2 separate regions of the Homo sapiens genome follow, and region 2 is linked to region 1. Evidence: fine-mapped expression QTL. Tissue or cell type: lung. Region 1 holds a variant in brackets; the other region holds the start of a gene. All regions are shown on one strand. Distances are from middle to middle.

Region 1 (11,270 bases):
TGGATTCTTATCTTGCCCTTCTGTGTCACAATTTCCTAATTTCCCTTTAATTCCCTTTCTTAAAAATTTTTATCATTATTTTTTAAGACAGGGTGGAGTGCAATGGCATGATCATAGCTCACTGCAGCCTGGATCTCCCAGGCTCAAGCAGTCTTCCCACAGCCTCCTGAGTAGCTGGGACTACAGGTGTGTGTCATCACACCTGGCTAATTTTAAAAATGTTTGTAGAGACAGAGTTTGCCATGGTGCCCACACTGGTCTCAAACTCCTGAGCTCAAAGGATCCTCCTGCCTCAGCCTCCTGAAGTGCTGGGATTATAGGCATGAGCCACTGCACCTGACCTGGAAGCAACAGTTAACAGCCAGCAGAGCTCCCCCTGGCCCAGCTGTGACAACCCAGAATGCCTCCAAACATTACCAAGTGCCCTCTGGGAAGAAAAATCCAATTCCCACTCCTCTGCACTGTGAACCACTGATTGAGGGCATTCTGTGCCTCACTTTGATTCTTTCCCCTTGGTCTCTGGTGAACTGCCAGGGAAACACCCAGCATCTGAGATTTGCACTGTTGCTGGAAAGAAGGAGTGGTGAGAGCTTCCACTCTCAGAACCTAGGCAGTAGCTGCCTAGGACAGAACTGCCCCTACAAAAGATTCCATCTGATCAGGCCTGACCAGGTGGCCCATGGCTGCTGCCTCCCCATCATTTGTCTTCTGTGCTCCCAGTCTTTTACCTGGTGGCCTGCAGTGTCCCTCCCCACCGCAGACATAATCGCTGTTGTCCCTGTCAGACCCCTGGGAGGGACCCAGCCAGCCCAAGCTGATTTCTAGTGGGAGGACACTACTTAGGCCCCCCGTCTCTGTTCTTTTCATTGTTCAGTCTCCTCAGGTCTTAGCAATGTCATTTACAGACTTAGGGTAAGTGCAAAAGCTGGAGACTGCTGCTTCAATGTCTACAAACTCTATAAAGAGTTTTTCTACAAACTGCAGAGATGTTAGGTAGAATGACATCTCTGTCATTCACAGAGATAGACTTCTCTATCTTTAGGTAGAATGACTTCTCTGTCATCCACTAAGTAGAGTGTGCCAATGTAAGTACTTGTGTGGTTAGAGTAACCTCACCTGAGATGGTATGAATGCCAGCAATTTTCAGCGAGATTGTGATCAGTTAAACACCCATTTCCTAAACTATCTTCATGAACACGGCAGAAGAGCAAACCTCCAACTGAAATGAATACGGAGTCAGCAGGCTGCACTTTCACTTCCAACTGAATCCACAGTGATTCCACAAAGACACTGACCTTAGAAGCCATCTACCAGAGGTGGTATCTGAATAGCACTACATCACCAGTGGACACTGGGTAAGGTTCATCCGTTTTGTTGAGCATAGGCTTGTGCCCCATGAGTTCAGCCAAGGTTAGTACTTTTAGGGCTTGAGTTAACCCCATTCTTCCAGTGGCACAACTTAGCCTCTTCCACTCTGGAGCTTCAGAGAGGGAATTAGTTCAGAGAGTTAGTTGTTTTTACAGTTCCACCACTGGAAAAAGGGAACGGGAATGACTTCTCAGGGATCAGCAAACTTTTCCTGTAAAGGCAAGTTTGCTGGTCACATACCATCTCTCTTTTTTTTTTTTTTTTTTTTTTTACAACCTTTTAAAACTATAAAAATCATTCTTAGCTTCAGAGCTGCACAAAGCCCATCATTATCCAGATTGGCCTGCTGACCAGATTTGTTGACCCCTGGCTCAGTTGACACTGATTTTGAAACATCTGCACATCATTTAACTGGATAACCCCTTGCTTTGTTATTCTGATCTCCAAAGCCAGGGATAAAATGGACAGATTCATCTATCCATTTATTCACTAACTACTTACTGAGTGCCAACCATGTCATAGACACTCAGCAGTGTTCAGAAGACACAAGTTACCAAAACTCAGTTGCCATCCTCAAGAGCTTATGTTTAATGGAGACAAACCACAAAATAGGCATTTTCTATGCAGTGTGATAAGTGCCACTATTCCAGTTATTCAGAAAACATTTATGAAGTACCTTATGTGCTAAACATGTTCTCAGTACAGGGGGAAGGTAACGCAGTGAACAAGGCAGGAGGCCCTTGGTCTCAGGAAGCTTGCACTGAAGTGGAGAAGCCAGATAAGCAAGCAGATAAATTGCTTTCACATGGTGGCAGGCATTTCACAGAAAATAAAAACAGCAGTGAAGCTGGGTGCAGTGGTGCACACCTATAATCACAGCTTCTTGGGAGGCTCAGGAGGGGGATTGCTTGAGCCCAGGAGTTCAAGTTCAAGTGTTCCTAGACCAAAACGAGGATCAGGCTGCTTACTCTCGTGGCCCAATAATGAGATGCAGATGAACTGGGAAAGAAGAGTTTTTTATTTATGTAACTGGTTACAGGGAGAAGGCCTGGAAATTATCAAAATTTGGACTAACTCAAAATTACAGTTTTCTAGAACTTATGTGCCTTCTAAGCTATATGTCTACGTGTAAGTGTGCATTTATCTAAAGACATAAGTGCTAACTTTTATTCTGTAACTGAGATCTGAGTCCTGAAGACCTTCCTCTGGAGCCTTAGTAAATTTTCTTAATCTAAATGGGCCCAGGTGCTGGGGCAATTACCCTTATCTTGTCTCCTGCTAAATCATGGAGGTTTGATGAGTTCTTGCAGACCTCCAATAAACTTGTTTGTGGAGACCTGGGGGGTTTCTTCAGACCCCCAATGAAACTTGCTTAATTCTAAATGGGTCCTTTTAAGAATTCCTTTTTTATCTCATCATGCTTCAAGGCCCAGGAAAGGCCTGGACAAAACTCTTGGTGAGCCTTTGTTACATTCCAGCATTTGTATTAGAGCACTGGCTCTATCAGCTTTTAATATTTAACTTAACCACTCAGTCAGTGCTGAAACAGTTGTTACAGAGGCCTGCGTTAGTGAGACCTGGCCTGCCGCAGCAGTGAATGATGATCACATTTATGAATAGCCACTGCACTCCAGCCTGGGCAACATAGCAAGACCCTGTCTCTAATTAAAGACAAAAACCAAGACCTGAGTAATGGAGTAGAGATGAATTGGGTGCATCCTTGGAAGGCCCCTTCAAGGAAGTGCTATTTTTCTTTCAAGGAATAATACAAGGAGTTAGCCATGCAAGATCTGAGGGAAGAACATTCCAGACACAGTACAGAGCAAGTCTAGAGGGTTTTGATTTGGAATAAGCTTGCTGGACTTGAGAATCAATGAGGCAAGCAGTGTGACTAGAGCACAGTGTGTAACCATTAGGAAATAAGGAGATCCATTTAGAAAGGTAGACTGGGGCTTCCGCAGGACAGCCTTTAAAAGCCAGAACAAGTTTAAGTTTTGTACAGGTGGTGAAAATTCCTGGATTCTTTTAAGCACATGACCTACTGATATGAGATGGGTAAGCCCAAGGTTCCTGGGAATACAGAGGAGGGACCTGTAACCTAGGCTTGGGAGGTAAAGAAGATGCTTCTTTTATTTTTTGTGAATGTGAAGTCATTTTTTTCTACTCTGGCTTCACAACAAAGGCCAACAAGTAATTTAGAGGACCCAGAGTAAATCGCTGGGACAAATCCAGCATAATCTTGAGTCCTGCCTCTTGCTTTTTTTTCTTGGTTCTGTTTCTTGGGCTGGATTTTACACAACTCACTGGTATCTTATTGAAGATACAGAGGAATAAATACAGAATGGAGAGAAGGATCTCACTCTGATAGCTACCAAACCTATTCTTGAAATATTCTGGCACTGTCACCACCTGTACAAGCAATGAGACAAGTCACCATCAACAGTGAGTGCTGAAGAGGCAGACCCAGGGGGATGAGTCTTGCTCACAAGTTCTGGTTGTTAGAGACATGGCTGATTCTGGGAGTAGCCCAAGAATTCAAGATGGGGAGTCACTGCCCCTGGCATCTGTTAAGATGGGAGAAATAAGAAAGGAGAATAAACACCACTGTCTCCCAGGAGTTTGGAATCCAGCTTCTTGTGCAATATTTGATGCAGAAGAAAATCCAGCTGAGAATGGTAATGATGACAAATCCCTTTTATGGAATAATCATAGAGCAAAATCAAGTGCTTAATCACATAGTACAAAGATAGCCAGTGTTCAAGAGAGACAGGTCCTGACTACACAGCTCTGTGACTTGTCCTGTGCCAACACTGCCGGTGTGCATGCTGGTGTCCCATACAATCCTGCTGTATCTCAGGCTGTGCACACCAAGACGACAAGAACCATGCCCTTTTTGTTCACTATATTCCTGGACCATAGCTCAGTGCCTGGCTCATGGTAGGTGAATAGATACTAATGAATATTGTTCCACTTTCTATCCTGACTATTCTCATATGTTCTTGTCCACTGACCTCAAACATGTCTATTTTAAGTTCTATCTCAAATTCTACCTGCTTTATCAAGACTTACCTGGGGACTTCACAAGAACCATATGCCCTCTTCTTCTAAATACCTGTAGCTTTTATTATTTTCACCTTTGATTTGGCTCTAAATCGTAGATGGCTTACTTTTTTAGCAAGGTCCCAAGCTTCCCAAGCTGTTTCACACTTACTACTTATATCTTTGCTAGGGCTGCCATAACAAAGTAAACTGTTCATTCTGCACTGCCTTGCCTTTTCTGCAGAAGCCTCAATAAAGGCAGTATCCCAACCCTTCCCTTTGTCTTTTTCCTCCTGACCACCTGATGTCTTTCCCATGTGGTCCTGCATGGCATGCCATGCCTCCTGTCTCTAGGACCTGTGAGTATAATAAACTTTTTTTTTCTGAGCTTCTATGTCTCCTCCTGTGGCTGCACCCAACCCATCTGACTGGCTCATAAAGAATACAAAATAGAGTGTGTAGTGGTATCTTATTTATTTACTTAGTTTAGAAATGGTGTCTTGTTCTGTTGCTCCAACTGGCCTTGAGCTCTTGGGCTCAATCAGTCCTCCCACCTTGGCCTCCCAAGTAGCTGGGACTATAGGCGTGTGACACCATGCCCAGCTTGGTATCTTATTTGAATTAGCATTTCCCTAATGATTAATAACCTTTTAATTATTTGCCATTTGTATATATCTTTTGGTTAAACATCTGTTCAAACCTTCTTCTTAACTGAGTTACAAGTTTTAAATATGTACAGATTCTGGATATAAGTGTTTTATTGTAAATATGTTTTACAAATATTTTATTTTTTATTTTTTTTATTATACTTTAAGTTCTAGGGTGCATGTGCACAACGTGCAGGTTTGTTACATATGTATACATGTGCCATGTTGGTGTGCTGCACCCATTAATTCATCATTTATATTAGGTATATCTCCTAATGCTATCCCTCCCCCCTCCCCCCACCCCATGACAGGCTGCGGTGTGTGATGATCCCCTTTCTGTGTCCAAGTGTTCTCATCGTTCAATTCCCACCTATGAGTGAGAACATGCAGTGTTTGGTTTTCTGTCCTTGAGATAGTTTGCTCAGAATGATGGTTTCCAGCTTCATCCATGTCCCTGCAAAGGACATGAACTCATCTTTTTTATGACTGCATAGTATTCCATGGTGTATATGTGCCACATTTTCTTAATCCAGTCTACCCTTGATGGGCATTTGGGTTCGTTCCAAGTCTTTGCTATTGTGAATACTGCCACAATAAACATACATGTGCATGTGTCTTCATAGCAGCATGATTTATAATCCTTTGGGTATATACCCAGTAATGGGATGGCTGAGTCAAATGGTATTTCTAGTTCTAGATCCTTGAGGGATAGCCACACTGTCTTCCACAATGGTTGAACTAGTTTACAGTCCCACCAACAGTGTAAAAGTGTTCCTATTTCTCCACATCCTCTCCAGCACCTGTTGTTTCCTGACTTTTTTTTTTTATACTTTAAGTTTTAGGGTACATGTGCACA[A/T]TGTGCAGGTTAGTTACATATATATACATGTGACATGCTCGTGCGCTGTACCCACTAACTCGTCATCTAGCATTAGGTATATCTCCCAATGCTATCTCTCCCCTCTCCCCCCACCCCACAACAGTCCCCAGAGGTTTAATGATTGCCATTCTAACTGGTGTGAGATGGTATCTCATCGTGGTTTTGATTTTCATTTCTCCGATGGCCAGTGATGATGAGCATTTTTTCATGTGTCTTTTGGCTGCATAAATGTCTTCTTTTGAGAAGTGTCTGTTCATATCCTTCGCCCACTTTTTGATGGGGTTGTTTGATTTTTTCTTGTAAATTTGCTTAAGTTCTTTGTAGATTCTGGACATTAGCCCTTTGTCAGATGGGTAGATTGCAAAAATCTTCTCCCATTCTGTAGGTTGTCTATTCACTCTGAGGATAGTTTCTTTTGCTGTGCAGAAGCTCTTTAGTTTAATTAGATCCCATTTGTCAATTTTGGCTTTTGTTGCCATTGCTTTTGGTGTTTTAAACATGAAGTCTTTGCCCATGCCTATGTCCTGAATGGTATTGCCTAGGTTTTCTTCTAGGGTTTTTATGGTTTTAGGGCTGACATTTAAGTCTTTAATCCATCTTGAATTAATTTTTGTTTTACAAATATTTTCTCCCAGTCTCTAGCTAGACTAGTTTTACTTTTTTCTTTTATTTTTAATTGACACGTAATAATTGTATATGTTTATGGGATACAGAATAATATTTTAATACATGTATACAATATGGAATGATAAAATAAAGGCAATTAGCATAATGATCACCTTGAACATGTAATACTTCTTTGTGTTGTGGACATTCAAAATTCTCTTCTCTAGCTTCTCAAACATATACACTAATTGTTTTTAACTATCTTTACCTTATAGTGCTACAGAACACTAGAACTTATTCCTCCCATCAGCTGTGTAACTTCAGATTGTTAACCAACCTCTATCTTCTCCAGACCGCCCACTCTTCCCATTTATATCAGCTCAATTTTTTAAATTCCCGTATAGAAATGAGAACATGTGATATGTATTTTTCTGTTTCTGACTTATTTCTCTTAGTATAATTTCCTCCAGGATCATCCATGTTGCTGGGAATGACAAGACTTTATTCTTTTTTTTTTTTGGCTGGATAGTATTCCAGTGTGTAAATATACCACATTTAAAAAATCCATTCATTTTTTGATAGACATTTAGGCTGATTCATTATCTTGGCTATTGTGAACAGCACTGCAGTAAAATGGGTGTGCAGATGTACGTATGTCTTCAACATACTGCTTTCCTTCTGTTTGGATAAATACCCAGTAGCAAAACTGCTGGATTATGTGATATTTCTATTTTTAGTTTTTTGAGAAACTTCCATACTGTTTTCTGTGATGGCTGTACTGATTTACATTCCTACCAATAGTGTATAAGAGTTCCATTTTCTCCATTTCTTCACTAGCATTTGCTAGTGTCTTTTTGATAATTGCCATTCTAACTGGGGTGAGATGTGGTTTCGATTTGCATTTCCCTGAGTGTTAGTGATGTTGAAGATTTTTAGTATACTTTTGACCATTTAAATGGCCTCTTTTGAGAAATGTGTACTCAGATACTTTGCTAATCTTAAAATTGGATTATTTGGGGTTTTTGCTGTTGAGTTGTTTGAGTTCCTTGTGTATTCTGGATATTAGTCCTTTGTTGGATGAATAGTTTGCAAATATTTTCACCCATTTAACTGGCTGTCTCTTTACTCTGCTGATTGTTTCCTTTTCTGTGCAGAAGCTTTTAGGTTTGACATAGTCCCATTTGTCCATTTTTGTTTTTGTTGCCTGTGCTTTACCCATAAAATAAAGTTTTACCTATTAAATCTTACCTATAAAATTGTTTATTTGTATAAATTTATGAGGTACAAGTGTAACTTTGTTACATGTATAGATTGCATAGTGGTGAAGTTACTCATAAAATCTTGGTCTAGACCAATGTCCTGAAGCAGTTCTCCTATATTTTCTTCTAGTTTTATAGTTTCAGGTCTTACATTTAAATCTTTAATACATTTTGAGTTGCTTTTCATATATGGTGAGAGATAAGGATCTAGTTTTATTCTTCTGCATATGGATATCCAGTTTTTCCAGCACCACTAATTGAAGAGGGTGTTGTCTCTCTAATGTATGTTGTTGATGCCTTTGTTAAAGATCAGTAGGCTGTAAATATGTGAATGTATTTCTGGGTTCTCTATTCTGTTCCATTGGTGTGTGTGTCTATTTTTATACTAATATGATGCTGTTTGGGTTACTATAGCTTTTTAGTATATTTTAAAGTCAGGTAGAGTGATGCCTCCAATTTTGTCCTTTGTTCTCAGTATTTCTTTAGTTACACAAAGTCTTTGGTTCGATGCAAATTTTATCATTTTTTTTCTATTTCTGTAAAGAATGTTGGTATTCTGATAGGACTTACTTTTAATCTGTAGATTGCTTTGAGTAGTATGGTTATTTTAACAATATTCATTAAAATCCATGATCATGGGATATCTTTACATTTTTTGGTGTCCTCTTCAATTTCTTTCATTAGCATTTTGTAGTTTTCATTGTAGATATAGTTTATCTCCTTGATTAAATGTCATCTTTGGTATTTTATGTTTTTGGTAGCTATTCTATGTGGAATTAATTTCTTGATTTCTTTTTCAGCTAGTTCATTGTTGGTGTATAGAAATGCTACTGATTTTTGTATGTTAATTTTATATCCTGAACATCACTGAATTTATCAGTTCCAATGTTACCAGTGGCAGAGGTCCGAGTTACCCTGAGTTACCAGCAGCCTATCCATAAGGGTCCATAGCAACTTCAATTCTTGCCACCTCAGAAGAAAGAATTCCACTGAGGGGCATAAAGCAGAAAAAGAGACCAAGGCAAATTCCAGTGTGTAAATGGAGGTTTATTCAAAAAGGCCTTAGAACAGGAAATAAAGGAAAGTGCGCTTGGAAGAGGGCCCTTAAAGGTTAAAGGGAGAAGGTCAAGTGCTCTGTTTAACTGTGATCCTAGGACTTTTATAAGTTCACCTCTTTCCCATGATTCTTCCCTTAAAGTGGGCTTTCTGTGTACCCAGTGCTTTCCTTACCCTTTGGGATTGAGCTTGCACAGTATGTTTAGGGGGTTATACACATGCCCATCTGAGGCTTTCTTCCCTCTTCTGTTGTAGTGTGCCCCTGGAAGATCATACTTCACCATTTTTACTCTTAACATGCATGCCCAGAAAGTTGCTTACCCTGGGGTCTGCATTCAGTTAACATTTTGATATTAACAGGTGTGGATCATCAGGAAATGGCCTCTCCCTGGCGCTGCTGAATTATCATTTTTAGAGAAGCAATGTGACAATTGCTGAACCATCACCCAGCATTCCCAGCATTTCTAGTGGGTGTGGGGGGAGAGCCCTCTCCTCTCCCACTCATGCCTAACTACCTGTACCCTAAGAGATTTTTGGTGGAATCTTTAGGTATATATATATGTGTATATATGTACATATACATATGAACATGATCATGTTGTCTGCAAAAAGGGACAATTTGCCTTCCTCTTTTCCGAATTGGATGTCCTATATTCCTTTCTCTTGCCTAATTACTCTGGCTAGGACTTCTAGTACTATGTTGAATAAGATCAGTGAAAGTAGGCTTCCTTTTCTTCCAGATCTTAGAGGAAAGGCTTTTAGCTTTTCCTCATACAGTATAAAGTTTTTGTGGGTTTGTCATGTAAGTTTTTATTATGGAGGGATGTTGAAATTTATCAAATACTTTTTCTGCATCTATTGAGATGATCATATAGATTTTGTCCTTCATTCTGTTGATGGGATGTATCACATTTATTGATTTGTGCATGTTGAACAACCCTTGCATTCCTGAGATAAATCCTGCTCTATTATGGTGTATTTTTTGATGTGTTGTTGGATTCAGCTTGCTATTATTTTATTGTGGATTCTTGTATCTCATGAGGGATATTGGCCTGCAGTTGTTTTTGTTTTTTTTTTTTAAATTGTGTCTCTGTCTGGTTTTGGTACCAGACAGAGTACTGACACTCTGGCCAGAGTATGCTGGCCTCACATAATGAGTTGGGAAGAATTCCTTCCTCTTCAATGTTTTGGAATAGTTTGAGGAGAACTGGTGTTAGTCCTTCTTGGGAATTTTGGTAGAATTCAGCAGTGCAGACACCCAGTCCTCAGATTTGATGGTAGAATTTTTATTACTGATTGATATGGTTTGGGTTTGTGTCCCTGCTCAAATCTCATATCAAATTGTAATCCCCAGTGTTGGAGGAGGGACCTGGTGAGAGGTGATTGGATCATGGGGGTGGATTTCCCCCTTGTTGTTCTCATGATAGTGAGTGAATTTTCACAAGATCTGGTTGTTTAAAAGTGTGTAGTGCCTCCCCCTTCAGTCTCTCTTCCTCCTTCTCTGGCCATGTAAGACATACTTGCTTCCTCTTCACCTTCTGCCTAAGTTTCCAGTGGCCTTCCCAGTCATGCTTTTTGTACAGTCTGTGGAACTGTGAGTCAAGTAAACCTCTTTTATTTATAAATCACCCATTATTGGGTAGTTTTCTTTATAGCAGTGCAAGGATGGACTAATAGAGAAAACTGGTACCAGAGAAGTGGGGGATTCCTATAAAAATACCTGAAAATGTGGAAGTGACTTTGGAATTGGGTAATGGGCAGAGTGTGGGGGGCTCAAAGGAAGACAGAAAGGTGAGGGCAAGTTTGGAACTTCCTAGAGACTTGTTAAATTGTTGTGACCGAAATGCTGATGGTGATATGGATAATAAAGTCTGGGTTGAGGAGGTCTCAGGTGGAGATGAGGAACTTATTGAGAAATGGAGCCAAGGCCACTTTTGTTATGTGTGAGTAAAGAGATGATCTGAAACTGGAACTTATATTCAAAAGGGAAGCAGAGTGTAATAGTTTGGAAAATTTGCATCCTGGCCATGTGGTAGAAAAGAAAAACCCATTTTCTGGGAGGAATTCAAACTGGCTGCAGAAATTTGCATATGTAAAGAGGAACCAAATGTTGATAACCAAGATAATTGGGAAAATACCTGGAAGGCATTTTAGAGACCTTTGTGGCAGCTGTCCCATCACATGCCTGGAGGCCTAGAAGGGAAGAATGGTTTTGTGGGCCAGGCCCAGGGACCTGTTGTTTTGTGCAGCCTTGAGGCACTGCTCCCTGCATCCCAGATGCTCCAGCTCCAGCCATGGCTAAAAGAGCACCAGACACATCTTGGGTCACTACTCCTGAGGGTGCAAACCATCATCCTTGGTGGCTTCCACATGGTGTTAAACCTGTAAGTGTGCAGAGGGCAAGAGTTGAGGCTTGGG
Region 2 (8,000 bases), 64 kb before region 1:
CTCTCCAGGTCTCAGACCCACCTCCTAATTCCCCACCTCTCCAGAATGGGTTTTTCTGTATCTTGCTTCTCAGCCAATACCAGCTCCATCTTTCTACTGGTTCAGACCAAAACTGCAGCTGTCCTTTAAAAGCTGCAGCTTTAAAAAAACAAATCTCCCACCTGCATTTCTCAGGGCCTCCAGAGCTCCCACCCCTGGGTCAGCAGCCTCTCTGCCTGGGATGTTGCAGTAGCCCCTCATGGCCCCCAGCCTTACCCCACCCTAGCCTATTTTCCCACCTCAGCAGAGAGATCTTTTCAAAGTGTAGATTAGCTCCTCCTGGGAGGGCAGCTCCAGTCTCTTCTCTGCTCCAACCCTGCCAAGGTCTTCCTGCCTCATTGGGGCCCACTGAGTCCTGCAGGACCTGGCCCTGACACCCCACCCACACTCCTGCACCAGGTTCCAGCCACTCTGGTGGGGCCTCCAGGGGCCAGGGAGTGTCTGCTCAGCGCCTTTGCACCTGCTGTCTCTCCCCTGCTCAGCCACACCACTCACCCAGCACTTCTGCATGGCACTGTGTCAGTCCCCCACCCCCATCTCGTGTCCCCCACCTTCTGCTTTAGTGTTCTCCACAGTGCAGCACTTAGTAACATGTGTTACTGTCAACCCCTGCCCGTCTGGTGTGAGCACTGTGAGTGGATGCTACGTCCCTGCTGTACCCCTGCACCTGGCACAGTGCCTGGCATGCAGCAGGCGCTGGTAAATGTTAGCTGAACAAATGAATGGATGAATCGCGTGAGGTTCTGCTCCTCCGGCTCAGTCCAGAGGGCTGATGTCTCCTCCTATGTGCTCTAGGATCTGTCAAGCGGTCCCTGTTGGTTCAATCCTGTGAAGCGCCTCCCCTGGCGGTGTTCGCACGAAAGGGCCAAAATGTGTGGCAGGGGCTGGTGTGGGGACAGGGCAGGGCACTCTTGGCTTTGGGTATGGATGAGGATAATGAGGTTCAGAGAAAAAGGGGCTGGACCTAGGATGGTGGGACCAGGACCTGACTCCAGGTCTTCTGCCACCTAGACTGGAATGCTCACCTCACCACCCCGGAGCCACAACAGTCTGGGTGCTCCCACGTCCCTCTTCATTCTGCCCAGGCCGCAGCATAGCCTCTGCTCTGGGATTCTGCCTGGGGCTGACCCTTGGCATCTGCACTGACGCCTCTGTTCATTTCGCTTTGTGCTCCTTCCAGCCAAGCACAGTGCTCACAGGTGCTCAGAGGCTTGGCTACCCCAGGTTTCCTTGCTGGAGGGTTCGGGAGAGCAGCATGCTGACCTGCCTCCTCCAGTGTGCCCGTGCACCTGCCATGGTCAGCAGCAGTGAGAGTGCCTTTGCCACCACACACCGTCTTAAGTATTCTGAGGCTAGCGTGGGACAGACAGCACAGGGCTGCCTTCCTTGCCTCCAGGGGAGGAAGCCGCACACATGTGTTCACACACAAGATGACTAAATTCAGCATTCCTGAATTGCTATATTCAGCATTCCTGTCCCACTGGCCTCTCTGCGGGGGCCCTGGGCAGCCCTTGTGAAGTCAATCCAGTTACCTGCAAATTCCTGGAATTGTTCTAGAAGCTCCTGAGGGCCAGACTGAGACCCCACCCATACTCCTGCACCAGGTTCTGGCCACTCTGGTGGGGCCTCCAGGTCTCTGAGGTTCCTCCTGAGATTCTAGAAAACAAAAGGACTGAGAGGCTGGGGACAGAGGGAAGAATCCATTCCCTGTGTCCCAAACCCACAGTCACATGCCAGGTCCCTGCAACAGTCCAGGCGACAGGCACAGAGCACAGCAGCTCACCCTGCTCAGCACAGACTGCACACCCCACGAGGGCAGGCCCTGTTCTCGCTGCATCAACCTGGGCCTTGGCCAAAGCCAAGTGTGTGTTGGGTGGGGAGGGTAGGCACACTACAAAGATGAGTAACAAACAGCCCCTTCAGAGGGAGAGCAAAAACATCCCCAGAAATGAGGGAGCTGACTTAGGGGGGAAAGTGACACCAATTTCCGAGGGGGAGAAATTATGTCTTATTCACCTCCTGTCTCAGAAAATCAACGTCAGTTAGAGGAACACACAGGAAGACTTTTAAACCAGATGCCAGCATCTCCTCATTCCTAGAGAATGAGGCTTGCTCAAGGCGCATATTTTATCCAAGCACCGCCAGGCCATCCACACCCCCACTGCACCCCGTAGATGGATGCTCCCAGGCTGCCACGATTACTGCTCTCAAACATCCACATCCCAGAGGCACAGAGTCACTAGCTAAGCATCATCCCCGAAACAGGCAACTCAATCCTAACAAGGGGGTTGCCTGGGTGGTTACCCAGTGCCCTGGCTGTGCCCGAGGGAGAAGTGCCTGGAAGCACAGTCTCAGACTGCAAGGAGCCTTCCCCAGTCTTTAAAGCTAGCTCTTCTCCAGGCCCACCCCAGCTCATGGGGTCATGGAACTGCTTCGCTTTTACAGATGAGGAAGCCGTGGTCTCCACCATAGCCACAGTTAACCAGCAGTGGGGTCATTCCACTTCCCAGCTCCCTCAGCCCCGTGCAGCCCCCACCGGCCTTTCCCGCCATACCTCCTCCTACTCCCCAGGCATGCTAAGTGCTCCCATCAGACCTAACTGCCCAAGTGCCTCGGTCTATTCTCTCCTCTCTGCCCACAATGCCCAGCTTAGCTGTGCCCATGTCCTTCAAGCTCCAGTTCAAATGTCATGTTGCCCACGAGCTCACCTGACCCCCCAGCCCAGGACACCACTCTGAGGTCCCTCCCGAGGCCCCTGCACCTGCACTCAAGCGGGGTTGGTCGAGTAGAGACGTTTTCCCCTATGCGGTGGTCAATCAGTCCTGGGAGGGCAGGCCCAGTCCACTCCCACCCGGTGCACCCCAGCGTCAAGCTCTGGGGGAGTGACCACTCAATAAATATTTGCTTAATTGAATTTGGCCAAGGAGCCTTCTCCAGAGAGCTCAATCCCCAGGGCAGGGAAATCACTTGGGCAGAAAGGAGCCGGTCAGGGGCTCAGCTGTCTCCCCAAGCAAGACAGACCTCTCTACCAGGCGGGTCCCTCCACCCCAACACGGACTACGCGGAACGCTGGTCTCGCTTGGCATCATCCTCTTGTCTCAGTTAACAGGAGCCCCCATTCTCGGCCTAGGCCGAATCCTGCCATCATCACCCAGGAAGGCTCAGCACCGCCCTAAAGGCAGAGCCCCCTCGGATCGCCCGCAGGATACGGAGCGCCAGCCCTGAGGCCCTCACTCCCCTCCCCCAAACACCCCCACCGCCTTTTAAGGGAAAAAATATTGAGCCGGGAACGTATTACAATCGCAGCAGGTCGATACTCATCTCTTCCTCTAAATGCCTGTGAGGAACCTGCTCGCTGCAAGAGCAGTGACCGAGAACTGCTAGCTGTCCGTCTGCGGGCCCAGGTCCTCGGGCCCAGGCCTCTGGGGCCCTCTCCTCGGTTTCAGGCAAGGCCCTGCATCGGCTCCGGCCGCCCCTCCCTGATCCTCCCCCTAGGGAGACCCGCCTCAGCGCCGCTCCCGCAGCTCGCCTGGCCCGCCCGGGCTCCGCATCAGCCGCTGCTTGGGGGCGCCCGGCGGCCCCGCGCGGCATCCCCGGCGCCCTCTGTCCACCCTCCCGGGTCCTCAACCGCCCCCTCCCGCGGGGTCATCGGCTTGGCGGCGCATCCCTCCCCCAGCACCTGCCCGACCAGAGGCCGCCCCCTGCCCACCTCGCAGGCGTCCCCGCCCTTGGTGTCCCCCACCCCTGAGGGGCATCCCTGACGCTGCGTCCTGGCGGATCCGGGGCACAAAGGCCTGGGAAGAGTCCCAAGTGGGGGCAAGGTGGATGCCCCGGCCGTGCCCCCGACCCCTGAGGCTCAGCGGCGCGCGGCCGGCCGCGGGTCGGCTCACTCACCTCCGGGCCGCAGCACAGAGCATCTGCCGAGCTGCTCCGGGCAGGGCGGGGCGGGGCGGGGCGGCGAGCACGGGGCCGCGGCGCCCTCGTTCCGTACGACGCGGGCAGCGGCGCCCACGCGGGGACGTGACCGGACCGCGGGCGGCGCACACGCTCCGGCCGGCCTGGTTCCCTCCGCCCGCCCTCCCGCGCCGCCCGCCGCCCGCCGCCCGCCGCCAGTCCGCGGGTCCGCCCGCCCCGCGCCGCGCCGCCGCCGGCAGGGGGCGGAGCCGCGAGCGCAGCCCGTTGCCAGGCCAACCGCGGGCGGGGGGGTGCCGCGCGCCCGCCGGGCACCACGCGCCGGGCACCTCCGCCCCGCCACGAGCGCCGGCCCTCTGTCCATTGGGCACAGGCAGCTGACGGACGGGCCAGTAGCCCAATGGGGACGGACAGGGGCGGGGTCGCAGCTCCGCGCGCGCCGCAGTCCCGCAAGAGCTCCCCGCGCCGGCGTTCCACCGACTCCGCTGCGCTGAGGCCTGGTAGCCGAGCCCCAGGGGCCACCTCTGGCAGCCCGGGAAACCAAGCCTGAGCCCAGCCATGGTCCTGGCCCTCTTTACTGCAGCCAGTCCCGGCTCGCCTTCTCTCCACTCGGGTTCAAACCCAGTTCGGCCTCTTGTGAGCTCTACGTCCTTGGGCAACCGACTGACCTCTCTCAGCCTTTCTGTTTGCAAAGTGGGGCTAGTGGCACCTGCTTTCCTGGATTGTCTCACCAATCCTTCAGAACGTGTGAAAGGCCTATGCAAACCCTAACGATTTACACCGGTGAGGTTTGTGCAGCGATGGGAGGGAGCATTAGTCATCTCTGCCGCCGCCCCCCGCCGCCACCGCCCAGTGTCTAGGGGCTCTTTGGCGTCCCTGGCAATCCTGGCACACGGAAGGGTGGCCTTGGGAGGGAAGGAAGGGAGAAGGACCGAGGAGCTGGCCCCCAGCCCAGACAAGCGTGAGAGAGCCAGTTCAGTTAAGGCCACTGATTGGCGCTTTTGGGAAGCTGGTGGAAAGCATCAGACCCTCAGCAAAACGCAGCTGAACCCAGGCTGCAAAATTCTGTTTTCAATTTCAAAGCCTATCTGTGGACCTCAGGGCCAGGAGTCCCTCAGTTCCATGCTTAAAAGACTCTCAAGCCAGAGGGCCAAGACATGAATGCTCCTGTCTCTCTTCTCCATCTTTGTAAATCTGAAGCTTTGTGTATCCTAGAGCATCCCTGACAAAGTGCAAATGCCTTCCCAGCTAACGCGTTCCTTATCACCTCACACCTTTGTAAGGTGTGGATCATGCCATTCTTTGAGCAGCAGCCCTGGACCTGACCATGGCAGAGGTCCATGGAGCGGTCTCTCCATCATAGCTCTGTGGTGGAGGGGCAGGGGCATGTGCCTGGCTTTGCCAGCTGGACACTGTGGCATCTCAGCATCATCCCATAACCTCCCTAGGAATGTTTCCTCTTCTGTGAGATGGAGACCATTGCGTTACGTACCTGCAGGGTCATGGGCCACCTGTGAGGGTGCTGCCTCAACTGTCAGGAACAGGACGTATATTTGTTATGGGCATCATGGAGGCGAACTTAGTGCTCACTGGAGGTGTCCAGTGAGGACCAAGGGAATTCAGCCAATGGCTGAGGGGCTAGCTACCCTTTGTGCTTGCCTTCCACACCACCAGGCTGTGTCAGGCTGGACCTCTTGCCAGGAGGACCACACAGAGACCGGCAGCTGTGCTACCTGGCTGAGCCTCTGTTTCCTCTTCTGTCAAAAGGGAATGTAACAGACTGTGGTCAGAGGGTGGCTCTGAGGGTTAATGTTTATAGGAAATGCATATTAGCATGTCTTGGGATAGCCAGAGGCTGTTTCCACTGCAGAGTCTGGGGGTCAGAGTTGAATTGTTTGCAGAGGTAAGCCCACATGCAACAGTGAGATGGCCCTTTCCAGTGGTCCAGAGCAGAGGCTAGCCTGCGGAGGGGTCCACTGGGGCTGGCTGACACCTCCCTGACTTGACCTCAAAGTAAGAGAGGGACATCTCACCTGGCATCAAACCAATATTGTATTCATGCAGCAGTCACTTACAGATAGCCTCCTCCACCAGGGTATAGTTGTAGGCACAGTTCTAGGATTCAGACCGGCCCTTTTCTGGCAGACCCTCTGCCTGTAGGGCAGGGGCAGAAAGCAAACAACGATTGGGCCTTACAGTCATGTGAGGCTATCTGAGGAGACCCACTGGGGCTCTGGGGGCATGTGGAGTGGGGGAGCATTGGGCATTGGGCCAGCTTCCCAAAGGAAGAGATGCTTGGAATGAGGCCATAGCAGGCGTGGAGGTGGCCAGTGACATAGGGTGGGAGGGAAGTGAGTTCCAAGGCGGGGACGGTGCAGGACATGAAGGAGCACGAGGCCAGGAAGAACCCAGAGAAGACCAGTGTGGCTGGGGCCAGGGTCGTTGCCCATGCACAGATGCCAGCTTGGGGCAGTAGGATCAGGGACGTTGGCCTAAGAACTGCTCGAGAGTTTTAACATTAGTCTTTTAAATTTGAGAAGGAGGAGGAGAAGTTTTTAATTGCCTGTTTACAGTAGGCGTGGTCCCACAGACAATGTGAGTTGTCCTACTGGACATAATAAAATAACAAAAACATCAGTTAGTCAGTCCAGAGGAAGTGGGAGTGAGCACAGAAGTCAGTCTGTGAGGCTGAGTTCAGTGTACGGTCTGCTGTGGCTGTGAGATGGCAGGGAGACCAAGAGCATGTTAGGAGACAGTGGCGGGGCATTATCAGGACCCAGGGAGATGAGAGAAGGGGAGAGGGTGGGGACCACTGGAGGAAGAGATGGTGCTTACCAAAAAGATGGAGGAGCAGTTGGGGAGGTGGTCAGGAACCAGAGAATGGAGGGTACCAGAGGCACGGGAAGAGAGCATGTGGTAAAGGAAGAAGCTGTTAACCATGCTCCCAGCTACCTGGAAGCCGAGAAAGCTGAGGACAGAGAAGCACCCCTTGGAGCAAAGGCAGGCCCAGTGGGCCAGGAGTTCAGGGCACAGGGCCATGCAAGGCTAAAGCTGGACAGGTGGGTCACCTGCGGCAAGGTGGGCCCCAGATGCCATGTGTGGATGTGCAGTCCCCTAACAGGAAAGGGTGTGGCTGCGACCAGAACCTGGGTGCTGGTGCTCTGTCCTGAGCCCTCATTGGCTGGGAGACAACAGCTGGGGCTTTGCTGTAGCCAGAGGAAGGGGGCCATGGTGGTGACTGAGCCCACTCAGCACCTCCCCAACCCAGCAGGCACAGCTGGCTGAGGAGTGGCCCCTCAACATGGTGTCAGCACCCGCCCTGCCCCACCACAAAGAAAATGACCCAGACTCCACCACTGGGGCTCCACACCATGGACATCCGTGACCCCTCAATCCCATTGGATCTCTTTGGCTCATCAACCACTGAACCCATCCTAGCCCCTACATATCAGCCAGGCCAGATCGGGGACTCCCCACAAACACATACATTTGAGCCCTGCTGTTCTGGGCTCTCCTCCACATCCATGAGAACCAGCTTCCCCGGGGCCTCCCTTTGTGCACCTCCAGAGCCCCTAGGACCCTGGAATTCCTGGTCTACACACATGTCAACCTGTTCTGTAGTGACCTGTCCCCAGCTGACTATTCCACTAGTTTTCCCACTTCCCGGGGGTGGGGTGGGCATATGTTGCTTGTCTCTAAACCATGGATGGCCCAGAGCCTGGCCTGCTCTGGTGCCACCCCATCTGGCTGATTCTCTGTGCCCCACCTGTCCTACCTCTTCTGCAACCACCCCCCACCCCCAGCGGACGCTCAGGCTGCCGCCCAGTTGGGTGGATTTCCCCGATTGTTTCCCTGGGGTCTGTGTGCCCCACCCCCACTTGAGCAAGCCATCGCAGATCTGGGTTAGTTATAAATAGCCAGGCCCGAGACTCTTCTTTTAGCTGAAAAGAAGCAAAGTGAACGAGCAGAAAGGCACACCCGGCACGCGTTTTATTTTTAATCTTCTCCCTCTGTCTCAAAATGAACCCCGGTCCCTGTGCTAAGCATTT

The links. PIP is the estimated chance that this variant, and not a neighbour inherited with it, causes the effect.
Region 2: GNAZ starts here. The variant in region 1 is fine-mapped to the expression of GNAZ in lung (TOPMed, PIP above 0.99).

Annotation. Positions count from the first base shown.
Region 1 is chr22:23,000,761-23,012,030 of GRCh38, reverse strand. No RefSeq gene overlaps it. Among named protein-coding and RNA genes, the nearest start is that of GNAZ, 64 kb to the left of the region's middle. The variant A/T (reference allele first, on the strand shown) is at 5,911.
Region 2 is chr22:23,066,504-23,074,503 of GRCh38, reverse strand. GNAZ (G protein subunit alpha z) reads right to left here and starts at 3,985. Exons shown (of 3, transcript NM_002073.4): 1 at 3,934-3,985. The region is part of intron 4 of RSPH14 (radial spoke head 14 homolog); the gene reads left to right. RefSeq lists enhancers at 1,522-2,403, 2,404-3,284 and silencers at 3,891-4,030, 4,171-4,310.